Linked DNA regions of Homo sapiens. The protein of the gene in region 1 purifies or fractionates together with the protein of each later gene. This does not show direct contact. Each region holds a gene or a part of one and is shown in the gene's direction. Other genes may lie near its edges. The genes, in order: INKA2, ACADM and TBX20.

Evidence for each region.
Region 2: the proteins of INKA2 (region 1) and ACADM purify together in Homo sapiens (affinity purification with mass spectrometry, with the first as the bait; one large-scale study listed by BioGRID). This does not show direct contact.
Region 3: the proteins of INKA2 (region 1) and TBX20 purify together in Homo sapiens (affinity purification with mass spectrometry; one large-scale study listed by BioGRID and IntAct). This does not show direct contact.

What each region holds. Positions count from the first base shown.
Region 1 is NC_000001.11:111,736,596-111,740,838, reverse strand, and holds the start of INKA2 (PAK4-inhibitor INKA2), read left to right. Parts: upstream 1-1,443; 5' UTR 1,444-1,596; coding exon 1,597-1,653; intron 1,654-3,264; exon of another isoform or gene 3,265-3,388; intron 3,389-4,243. UniProt on the Homo sapiens protein: Inhibitor of the serine/threonine-protein kinase PAK4. Acts by binding PAK4 in a substrate-like manner, inhibiting the protein kinase activity.
Region 2 is NC_000001.11:75,727,651-75,731,372, forward strand, and holds part of ACADM (medium-chain specific acyl-CoA dehydrogenase, mitochondrial isoform a precursor), read left to right. Parts: intron 1-738; coding exon of another isoform or gene 739-750; coding exon 751-838; intron 839-3,722. UniProt on the Homo sapiens protein: Medium-chain specific acyl-CoA dehydrogenase is one of the acyl-CoA dehydrogenases that catalyze the first step of mitochondrial fatty acid beta-oxidation, an aerobic process breaking down fatty acids into acetyl-CoA and allowing the production of energy from fats.
Region 3 is NC_000007.14:35,236,981-35,240,702, reverse strand, and holds part of TBX20 (T-box transcription factor TBX20), read left to right. Parts: intron 1-3,722. UniProt on the Homo sapiens protein: Acts as a transcriptional activator and repressor required for cardiac development and may have key roles in the maintenance of functional and structural phenotypes in adult heart.

The sequences.
Region 1 (4,243 bases):
CACCACGCCCAGCTAATTTTGTATTTTTAGTGGAGACGGGGTTTCTCCATGTTGGTCAGGCTGGTCTCGAACTCCTGAACTCAAGTGATCCACCCGTCTCGGCCTCTCAAAGTGCTGGGATTACAGGCGTGCGCCACCCGCGCATCTTTCAATAGTTAGCATATCTGGCACTTTTGGCTGCCACGGACGGACCGATGGCGGCGCCGGCACCGTTCGTGCCTTCTCTGGTGTTCTTACAGTTGTCCCACTCAGAGACCTCTAATCCTGCCTGGGGCAAACTTTTCCCCGTTAATTACCTTTTAACAACACGTCGCTAATTGCTTAATTACTCTCCGTGCTCTCCGCCACCGTCCCCGGCTGTCCCGGCCGGGCGCGGCGTCTCCGCGCTGGGAGGGAGCAGCGCTGGCGGGCGCGGAGCCCGGCGTCCAGGGCTGGGCTGGGAGGAGCACCCCCCACCGGTCTGCGGAGCCCATCGGCCTATCGAGCCTATTGGCCGCAACTCCATCCTCCAGGGCCTGGCTGGCGCTCGCCCGGCTCCTTTTGAATAACAAAGGAGCGTCCCGGCCTTAGAGCGCTTCGCCAAAGGCGAGAGCGTCAGCTAGGTTGACTGACGCCGAGCTCTGGGGAGAGAAAGGCTTGTTCCCTGCCCACCCCACTGAAGGCCCCAGGGAAAGCAGCCCGACCCCCTTACCCCGTTTCATGTTTTCATAAAAATCATTGTCTGAAATTACCGTGCTTACCGTGTGTGTGTGTGTGTTTACCTGTTTATCTTGTCTCCCCTTCTCTCCCATGTAAGTTCTTGAGAGCAGGGACCTCGCCTGTCATACTCAGTATCCCCAGCCCTACAGCCTTGCCAGGGGCGCAGCCGACCCTCGGCGGCTTTGTGTGACAGGCGTGAACCGGCCAAGCGGCGGCGTCTCTGCTCCGCCCGCGAGGGCAGGGCTGCGAGGATTTCACTCTAGGAGTGAGGCGGGAGCCACCTTCCCAGGGTCCTCTTCGGGGAGAAAAGAGCTTCTGAGGGACTTCTGGGGATGGGAGCGGAGTGGGTGGGGGTGTTTCCCTTCCTGATCGGAGTTTGGGAAAAGGGACTGACACTATGGCACTCTGCCTGTTACTGAGACCGCTACCCAGTCCCTCCCCGTAAAACTGTGCTCTCCCTTTATGACCACACGAGGGTCACGTGCTTCGTTGGGGGCCGCGGTACAGCCTGGAGTCACGATGCCCTCCGCCGCGCTGGCCGGGACCAGGTGTGTCCTCGCCAGCCCCAGTGGCTGCGCCCGGGTCCTGTGCAAACACTGCGGTAGGGTCCGCCTCGGCCGCCCAGCCCGGCCTCCCGGCCGCCCTGCCCATTGGCTGAAGACAGCCCCCCTGAATTCTCATTGGCTGTCCCACTTTTCCCTCCACCCCCAGCACCGACCGCGCGCGGCTAGCCGCTGGGGAAGCGACTCTGAGTCCCGGGCTCGGAGCGCAGGCTCAGCTCCGCGCTGCGAGCGCTACGGGCGCAGGGGCGGGGAGCCGGCCCGGAGCGCAGTTTCCAGTGGGGCCGGGGTTTCACCCGGGCCCTCTCTGTTTGAACCGAACCCGACAAATGGGCGCATGACGATGGAGAGCAGGGAAATGGACTGCTATCTCCGTCGCCTCAAACAGGAGCTGGTAAGAGCGAAGCTGGCGCCGGGGCAGGGAGGGCTGCTCCGCCCCGACGGGCACCTGGTCTCCGCCCCGGCCCCCGGGGAGCCGGGACGTAAGCAGGGCGGAGGAGGGCCAGGGAAGAGAGGAGAGGACGCGGGCCCGCAGGCAGAGGGCAGGGCTTGTCCTCAGGAAAGGGGACCACGAAGAAACTTTGAGCAAAGATTTGTGATGAGACAAGAACAAGTGACAGAGAGACAGAGGGAGCAAGCCAGCCAGGCTGAAATGTGACACAGAGAACCCCAGAGAGAAGATAGGGCACGCCCAGAGACGGCCAGGCACACGGACGCAGTGGGGCCCCCGCGCCGCCGACGCGGAAAGCGCGAGAGCGAAGGCCTGGGGAGCGGGACGCGGGCGCCTGGGTGCGGGGCTGCGCGGGGCGACCTGGAGCGCGGGGAGGAGGAGGGTGCTGGGTCCTGATCCCTGCGCGGGCACGAGGTCAGCGGGACTGCTCGCTCGAGGGAAGCGGGTACCACCCTGGGCCCCCAGCTCTGCCGGGCTTGGCAGAGCTGGCGCGGCTGCGGGGGCAGGCTTGGCCGGCTGTCTGCCTGGGCTTGTCTGCCAGCAGGGAGGGGGCTGGCAGCTGGAAAGGCGGGGGAGGGCCCTGCGCTGGAGGAGGGGCTCTGCCTGGCAAATCGAGAGCGGGAGCTGCGGAGGCCCAGCCAGATGTCAGGTCTGGGCTTGGGGAGTGCGCAGGGAGCGTTCGGAGGCCCCGCGGTACGGGGAGGGGGAGAAGTAGCTCAGTCTGGGGGGGTGGAAATCACCGAAGTCGGGGGAGTGGTGTTCGCTAAAGCTATGTTAGGGAGAGCCAGGTTGATTCTCACTGGCTTCATATACCACTGCCCCCGCCCCCACGCCACCTGCCACCTTTCTTATTCCTTCACCCACCGGAATTCAGGCAAATGTTATGCACATACAGCCCCATCTCTGCTTTGCCCATCTCTCCTTCCACTAGGCTCTCTGTTGTGTCTTTGCCCTCGTCTCTTTTTGTCTCTTTTAGTTTGTCTCTCTTGGAGTCGACTCTTCTCAGTCTCACTTTTCTGCTCTCCTCTTTCTTCTTACTTTACAGAGCCAGGGGCACTCAGGCCACACAACAGCAGGCCTGGATCTAGAAAGGGCCAGCTTATGGCTCTCCAGATTCTGTGACAGCGTTTCCCACTGCTGCCTGCAAAGGCTACACTCTTCCTGCTTGGGAAGGAACTTGGCAGTGTGTTAGGGGCCAGCTCTGGGGGTAGGGGGCAGAGTTTGAAACTGCAGGTGTTCTCACTGATGCTTCCTGACCAAGTAACCCTGCCACTCTTCCTGTCAGTCCTACTCCAGGGTCAGCCTGCTCACATCAACGATCATTTCTCTCTCTAGTCCTCCCTCCTGGAGCCCTTTCTGTGGTGACACTCAGATGCAAAAGTCACTGACTCAGAGATAAATTTCTTGAGAGACAGGAGTATTCATTGCTTTTCTTCTGAACTTACGCCATGTCCCTTCCCATAGTCGTTTGCACATGCTTCTCATGCCAGATTGGGATGGCTGGCCCCAGCCCACACGTACACAATTCTCATTTTTTTCCATTTATGTGTGCAGTACCAGAAAGAAAGCTCAAGGTCATCACAGATAATGTCTGAGGTCCAAGACCCATGCAGAGAAAAGAATCTAATGGAATCCTCCTTTTTGTGCTTCGAATTGGGGACTACACCACCCACCTCAGGTTCTGCCTTAATGGAGGGTTTGTGGGTGTTCCTGGCATGGGCTCGAATTTTTAAATCCTACTGATTTGCATTTTTTATAGCAGTCTAGGTGGGAGGTGGTGAGGGGAGGAAGACAGAGACTACGAGTGCCAGGAGAATAAAAAAGGCAAATAGGAATCTGCACTGAGCTGAGCTTCACATCTTGATTTGCACCCTCTCCTGCCAAGGACTTGAGCCCCCAATGCCTGAGAGGAGGAAAGGGAGAAGCTGAAGTCACGGAGTGCCCCATTAGCTTTCATTTGGCCCTTTGTCTGAGCAGCTTCAGCCTTTGACTCTCTTGGAGAGGAAGCCGAATGCCTGGCCTGGATCCCAGAATGACACTCAGATGGGAGAGCTCTGCACTACCCCCCATGGTGCTCCACCCCCTCCCCAATGCCAGCCTGCTCAGAGACGAGACAGAGCAGAAGGACAGACAGAGCTAGTAGAGTGTCACTCACTCCCTGACACCTCAGTTCAGTGCTTAGGTAGCTGGGCCAAATCTCAGTGCCTTAGTATCCCCAACAGTAGCAAAGGGGAAAGTAGAGCTGAGTTAGTCCAGGGTTAGCCCTTTGGCTGCCTTGCCCAGGGACAGTAGGGACTGAATTCAGTGCAGCTTGCTTGTGGCTGGGATAGAAGTGTGTTGACTTAATACCCTAGGTCTGCAATGGGGTGGGAAAGGAATACAGTTGGTTTCTGTCATGAGCTAGGGAGCTTTTGCACTGCAGATGGCCCATCCCAGGCAGGATCTCCCTTGCCACCCAGGAAGACATTGTGTTGCCTGGCGCTGCCCTTAGTTTGTGTTTACACAGGCATGGCCTCCTGTAATACTGGTCAAG
Region 2 (3,722 bases), about 36 Mb from region 1:
CTAAGACAAGTAGTGTATTAGTAGTTTAGAAGAGGGATGGCAAACGTGTTTGTAAAGGAACGGATAGTACATGTTTTTGGCTTTGTGAACCAGATGGTCTCTGTGGTAACTACTTAGATCTGCTGTGAAAGCGGCAATAGACAGCATGATGTGGCTGCACTGGTTTGGTGACTCCTTGCTCAGAACATTGTAAGAATCCCTGTAGACAGCAGAAAATACAGAACATGGTTTTATGCTAATTTGTTTTGTTAGAGTGGGGTATCCTAAAAAATGAGATCCTCTGAGGGGAAGGTTTCCAGAGGCATGCATGGGAGGCTCACAGTGACAGGGTATCAAAGTTGATGGACTAGGCAACTCTTGAACACAGTATGTTCACTTCCAGCCTATCGTTCTCCCCACCCCAACTCTCCAACCATTAATGTCCTAGGAGCTTGTAAGATACCCAGAATAGTGGTCCTACATCTACTACTACCCTTGACTGTTGTTTGTCCTAAACCCTCCACTTCAGTAGTATAAATACCACTGACTTTATTTTCATTACTTTTTAAAAACATCTCCTCTGTAATAGGAATTTATATAACTGATAATTGGCTTATTTAAATTATGATTGAAGGCATTTAAATAGTGATGACTTTAAAAACTATGAGTATGGTCAAACCAGTTGCTGTACTCACTTATGATTATCAGTAGTCTCTTATCTGATTAATGTTTAACTTATCAAATTTATTTTAATAAAAGTGTTCTTTACAGGTCCTGAGAAGTATTTCTCGTTTTCATTGGAGATCACAGCATACAAAAGCCAATCGACAACGTGAACCAGGATTAGGATTTAGTTTTGGTATATGTTCGGTTCTATCTTTTGACTTTAAACTTATACATATGAAGCTTTATATGTTTTGTTTGGAATATGTTTGTAAATAAACTTAATAATGTCTTTCAATGAGTAGAACCAGTCCACTGTCCACAGATAATTTACAATAACTCACACTCCATTCTTCCTGATCTCATTTTCTTCCTCAGTATACTACACTGTACATTAGATCTGTTTTAGCAGCATACATACACTTAAATTCCTTCCTTTTTTTCTGAGTGTTTAGCCCAAAATAAATGAGATTTACTGATATATATGAATAGTCTTCAACTTACATATCTGAATGCCACAAATACATTTTAAAAACACTTGTTAGATTACAATTCTAGGTGCCTGGTAATAAGCTAAAGCTTGTTTTTGCTATAATATATCCAAATTGCAATTTTGGTACTATTAGATGAAGTTCTCACTCCTGGGACCAGGGAGCCATGATTTTTTTTCCTCTGCCCTCTATAAAATGAAAACTACACACAAAAAATTTGAAATAATATCTATCTTTGGCATTCTTGGCCTTCTAAAGTGCTTCTTCAAAATTTTTATTTTTTCTCTAGTTAAAAACCATTTACTCAATTTATTTGGTCTCAGAAAATAGTTAAAGGCAGCTGCGATAACTCACAGCTAGGTACAAATGACAATCTCAAAGCTCTCCAGAGTTATTTTTTTTATTATTTGTTGTGTTTTTTAAAGATTTTTCCCTTTTCTTTATAAAGGTTTTTTTTTTTCTTACCAGAATTTAATGAAATTTTTCTTTTCTTTTTCTTTCTTTCTTTTTTCTTTTTTTTTTTTTTTTTAAGATGAGGTTTCATTGTCTCATTATGTTGCCCAGGCCGATCTTGAACTCCTAGGCTCAAGCAGTCCTCTTATTTCAGCCTCCCAAAGTGCTGGGATTATAGGCATGAGCTACTGCACCCAGACCAAATGAAAAGTTTCTGTGTTTTTTTTTTTTTTCCTGTGACTTCTAGCCAAAGACTGGATGAAAATTTTCTCTTTTCTTTTTTTTGAGACAGAGTCTCACTCTGTCACCCAGGCTGGTGTGCAAGTGGCTCACTGCAACCTCTACCTCCCAGGATCAAGCGATTCTCCTGCCCCAGCCTCCTGAGTAGCTGGGACTACAGGTGTGGGTCATCATGCCTGGCTAATTTCTATATTTTTAGTAGGGATGGGGTTTTGCCACGTTGGCCAGGCTGGTCTCGAACAGCTGAAGACAAGTGATCCACCCACCTCTGCCTCCCAAAGTGCTGGGATTACAGGCATGAACCACTGTGCCCAACCTAAATGAAAATTTTTTTTCTTTTCTCTTTCTGTAGCCAAAGACTAAATGAAAGTTTTCAAGCACTGTGAGGATAGCCATTTGGGATGGTGGATTTTTTTTTTTTTTTTTTTTTTTTTTTGAGACTGAGTCTTGCTCTGTTGCTCAGGCTGGATTGCAGTAGCTCCATCTGGGCTCATTGCAACCTCTGCCTCCTGGGTTCAAGCGATTCTCCTGCCTCAGCCACCCAAGTAGCTGAGATTACAGGTGTGGGCCACCATACCTGGCTAATTTTTATATTATTAGTAGATATGAGGTTTCGCCATGTTGGCAACGCTGGTCTCGAACTCCTGGCCTCAAGTGATCCACCCGTCTTGTCCTCCCAAAGTGGGATTATGGGCATTAGCCAGCATGCCCAGCCAGGGTAGTGGATCATACTGAGATAATTAGCATTAATTTGGTATGATTGCTTGTCACTTTAAATTTCTCTCTCAGTAGTAAGAGACTTGCAGGAGAAATCTATGGTGGTTCACTGAGTGACAGAGGATGAGTTAGATATAATTGTTTGGGAGGGAGATTGTGAAGTTCAATACGGGTCTATTCCTTGAACCAGTTGCATCTGGTTCTTTATCTGTAAAGTGGAAATAATATCTATAACACAGAATTTCTATGAAGATTAAATTATATGCTGTATTTAAAGCCCCTAGCACTTAGTGACTGGATCAAAGTAGTTTCTCAATAAATAATACATAATACATACTTGTCATTTTTCCTTTTTTTTTTTTTTAAGAGACAGGGTTTCACTCTGTCACCCAAGCTGGATGCAACCTTGACCTCTGGGGCTCCATGGATTCTCTCGCCTCAGCTTCCTGAGCAGTTAGGACAATAGGTCCATGTCAACCACACCTAGCTGATTTTTTAAATTTTTAAATGTTTTGTTGAGACAGGATCTTGCTATATTGCTCAGGCTGGCCCCAAACTCCTGGCCTCAAATGGTTCACCTGCCTCAGCCTCCCAAAATTCTAGAATTATAGGCATGAGCTACCGTGCCCAGACTTTCTCTACCCTCTATCTACCTGCAAGATTGCTATCAACTGGCACCAATCTTAGAAGTAAAGCTGTGATAGAGAGAACACTGGACTGAAATTCTTAAGTATACTTCTGCTAATTCATTGTGAGACTGATACTAGAATTTCCTTACTCTGCATTAGTTTATCAATAAAAAGAGAGATTTGGCTGGGCGCAGTGGCTCGGGCCTGTAATCCCAGCACTTTGGGAGGCCGAGGTGGGCGGATCACGAGGTCAGAAGATCGAGATCCTGGTGAAACCCCGTCTCTACTAAAAATACAAAAAAAAAAATTAGCCGGGCGCGGTGGCAGGCACCTGTAGTCCCAGCTGCTCAGGAGGCTGAGACAGGAGAATGGCGTGAACCCGGGAGGCGGAGCTTGCAGTGAGCCTAGATTGCGCCACTGCACTCCAGTCTGGGCGACAGAGCGAGACTCCGTCTCAAAAAAAAAAAAAAAAAAAAAAAAAAAGAGATTTGATCTTATGCTCTTCAATTCAGCACCAGAATTCAGCTTTTATGTATTGTTTCTCACATCC
Region 3 (3,722 bases), on another chromosome or scaffold:
ATAGTTTCTAGAATCTCTACATTATGGGTCAGGTTTTTAACTGCCCACTTCCCCACCCACACCTACCCCAATCTGCCTTCTCACATTTTCTTCTCCAGAAAGTTACTTGCCTCCTTTTCCTCCTCCTGGTAACATGTATAACCATGTTCTTGTTGCTTCATAAAATTTAAAAGTTCAGTTTCTCTGCTCAATTAAACACACCTATTCTATCCAACTGCCCAAACTGCTGATACTTTAGATATTTTGTAAGGTTTATTCAGCTATAATTTAGGGTGAGATAATTCTGGTAAAATGATTTTAAATGTCTTTTTAGATAGTAAACCATAGTATGTAACATCAAGATATCTAATTTATATTATTGAGTTATATGCAGGGTGAGTATCCCTAATCCAAAAACCCAAAATCTGAATGCTCCAAAATCTGAAACGTTTTTGAACATTGACATGACACTCAAAGGAAATGCTCACTGGAGCATTTCAGATTTTAGATTTGTGGATTAAGGATGCTTAACCTGTAAGCATAATGCAAAATTCCCAAATCTGAGAAAATCCGAGATCCAAAATACTTTTGGTTCCAAGCATTTCAGATAAGGGATACTCAACCTATGCTTTTTACTCTCTGTTGTACATCACATTTAAAATTAATGCATTTTTGGCCAGGTGCGGTGGCACATGCCTGTAATCCCAGCACTTCGGGAGGCCAGGGTGGGTGGATCACCTGAGGTCAGGAGTTCGAGACCAGCCTGGCCAACATGGTGAAACCGTCTCTACTAAAAATACAAAAATTAGCTGGGCCTGGTGGCAGGTGCCTGTAGTCCCAGCTACTCGGGAGGCTGAGGCAGGAGAATCGCTTGAACCTGGGAGGCGGGGGTTGCAGTGAGCAGAGATCTCACCACTGCACTCCAGCCTGGGTGACAAAGCGAGACCCCACCTCAAAAAAATAATAAAATTAAAAAAAAAAACTTAAATTAATGCATTTCTTCATCCATAGGGCTTATTCCAACTTAGTAAATATTTATCAAGGCCATACTAAGGGCCATGTACTGATAGACACTTCCCATACATTTTCTTCTTTTGTGCCCAGCGTAAGCTTAAGGGGCTGTGGCAGTACTACACTCCACAGGTGAGGAAGCTGAAGCTAAGAGAGGGTGAGTAACTTCTCTCCATCAGAACGGACCAGAAATAGAATTCCTTTTCATACACTTCAATATAAAAGGAAGTCACATGCTCAGTTTACTTGACACATTCAGTTGTTTATGACCTCTCTGTGTCTTTGTATCTTGTGTTTGTTTCATTGGTCATAGGTAGCCAAGACTATTGCTCTCCTCTTGTCTTGATGTTGTTAGGTTTTGGGTTCTGAGTGAGTAGCTATTAGATGCTGCCTGGTAGATGGCTCAGAGTCCCGGGGAGGATGGTCACCTGAAAGCGAGGTGGTGTGGAGACCCTCGGGAAAGGCAAGATGAAGCTGACATCACAGCCAGCCTCACACAAATGAGGTAGTAGAAGCCTGGAAAAGGGATGTGGGCAGATGGCCAGAGTGGATGTATGTAAGGCTTACTCTCCTAGGATTTCTATACAACTTTGAGTAGATTTCATTTCACCAGTGGCTGCTGTTTTCCTTACCTAGATATTAGGGCCAAGAACTGACCAGACCATTTTAGGGGATTGCTGTGAAGATCAAATGTAGTTGTGTGTGTAGGCTTGTTTAAGCCTTTGGAAGCTGTAAGGTGCTCTGTAAATAAGACATGTGGTTATGATGGGGCTGTCTCAGAAATGTCAAAAAAAGAATTTGTCACCATTTGTATTTTAAAATTTTAGTGGTGTATTAATGAGATAGAGAAATTAATGCGTAATTGTTATCATGCCGATCATCTTACAGTAAAGGCAAGTACTGTAACCTTTGAATTATCTCCAAGATCATAACACAGGAGTGGAAACATTCAGAGAATGCCCAAACTAAAAGTTGGGGTTTAGATGGAAGCCTACAAAGGCCTAAAGCACTAATGCTGTTTCTCTGCGAATCTGGAACACTGAAACCAGCAATCCTGTTTTTAATTTATTTGAGGGCACGTGGAATGCAAATATCATAGGCTCCAAAAAGATTCCGAAAACATTCCATTCATTTATACTAATTGATTTCATAGCTTTTATAATGTACACCATGCTAATATATTATAACAATTTAAATTTATGCTCACTTAAGAAACCTTATTGATGTTTGGGAATGGCATAGACACTTCTCATGTGGAAACCTCATTGCTTTTATCATAATTCTTTTTAAAGAGGGCCAAAGCAGGAGGAGGTAAATTGTTTTCCTCTTTATTTTTTTTAGTGAAAATTATAGAGATGAACAAAAATTAAAGTTTCTAGTAAACTTTAAAGTATAATGCCTGAGATTTGGTTTAATAGGTGAGAGACCAAGACTGCGTAAGTGTTGGCGGGACCTCTCATATCATAGGAGGGTCTTATTTACATAATACAAATAACAACTAACATTTGGGTACTTACTATGTGCAAGACACCACTTGAATTCATAATCATACTTGATCTTCTCAATGATATCATGAGATAGGAACAATCGTATTTTTATTCAGCATCGTACAGTTGGGGTAATTGAGGCACTAGTTAAATAAGTCATCTGAAGTGACCTTGCTCCTCCCATTGCAGATTTGAATTCAGGTGGTTAAGATTCAAGAGGGAGTGCCCTTAACCCCTAAGCTGTGAGTGCCTGCTGTTCCCAAAGAAGCAGAACTTCACCCTCTCTCAGCTCTTGGCCCTGATAGACTCTGAGACATTGATTTTAGAGAGCATCAGCTCTTTATGCTCATTTTTTTTTTAAACAAATGTGCTGCTCACACCACACATCAGCAAGTGTAACACGATGATGATCATCCTTAACAGGAGGTCAGAATATCTGCTAGTACTCGCTGTATCCAACTGGAACCACATCTTTAATGACATTTTCTAATTTAATTCTTGTTTTTCTACTTGATTTTTTATTTAGAACAAATTTCAGATATACAAAAAACGAAACAAATAGTAAAATGAACCTCACATGCCTTCCACCCAGATTCAGCAATGCCAAATTTGCTTTCCCCCAAATTTTCTCTTTCCTCCCTCTTCCTCTCTCTATATGCAAACGTACTTCCCCTCTTCCTTCCCAGTTTCTTCCCTCCCCTTTTGAAACTAAGTTGCATGCCTCCTGACACTTCTAAACACTCTTTAAGCATATTCTGACAATGAGAACACTATTTTTGTAATCCCAACATCTTTATCACAGCTAAGAAAATTTATAAGAATTTGTTCTTTATATCACCTAGTATTCAGTTTATATTAAAATTTTCAGGATAGACCAACTGCCCCTAAACCCCCTCTGAACTAGGATCCAGCTAAAATTCATGGTTTGGATTTATTACTTTTAATTTAGAAAAATCTTTCCACATTTTTTTCTAAACACCTCATTTAATTCTGACACTGTATGCCTTGAAGAAGGCCCCACGAGTCCCATTTTGTAGAATTAGAAACTGAGGTCAGAATGGTTAAGACATTCACCCAAGGTCACAAATCTGGTAAGTGACAGAACCAGTACGAGGTTTTTGATCTTCTGGGTTTTAATTCCTCCTTTTTGGTGGCATCATGATAGATTGCAAGGCCAAGGAAGTGACCACTGACAGTGTCATCAAAAACTGACTTTGAAAATATGGGTAATGAAAATAGCTGAAG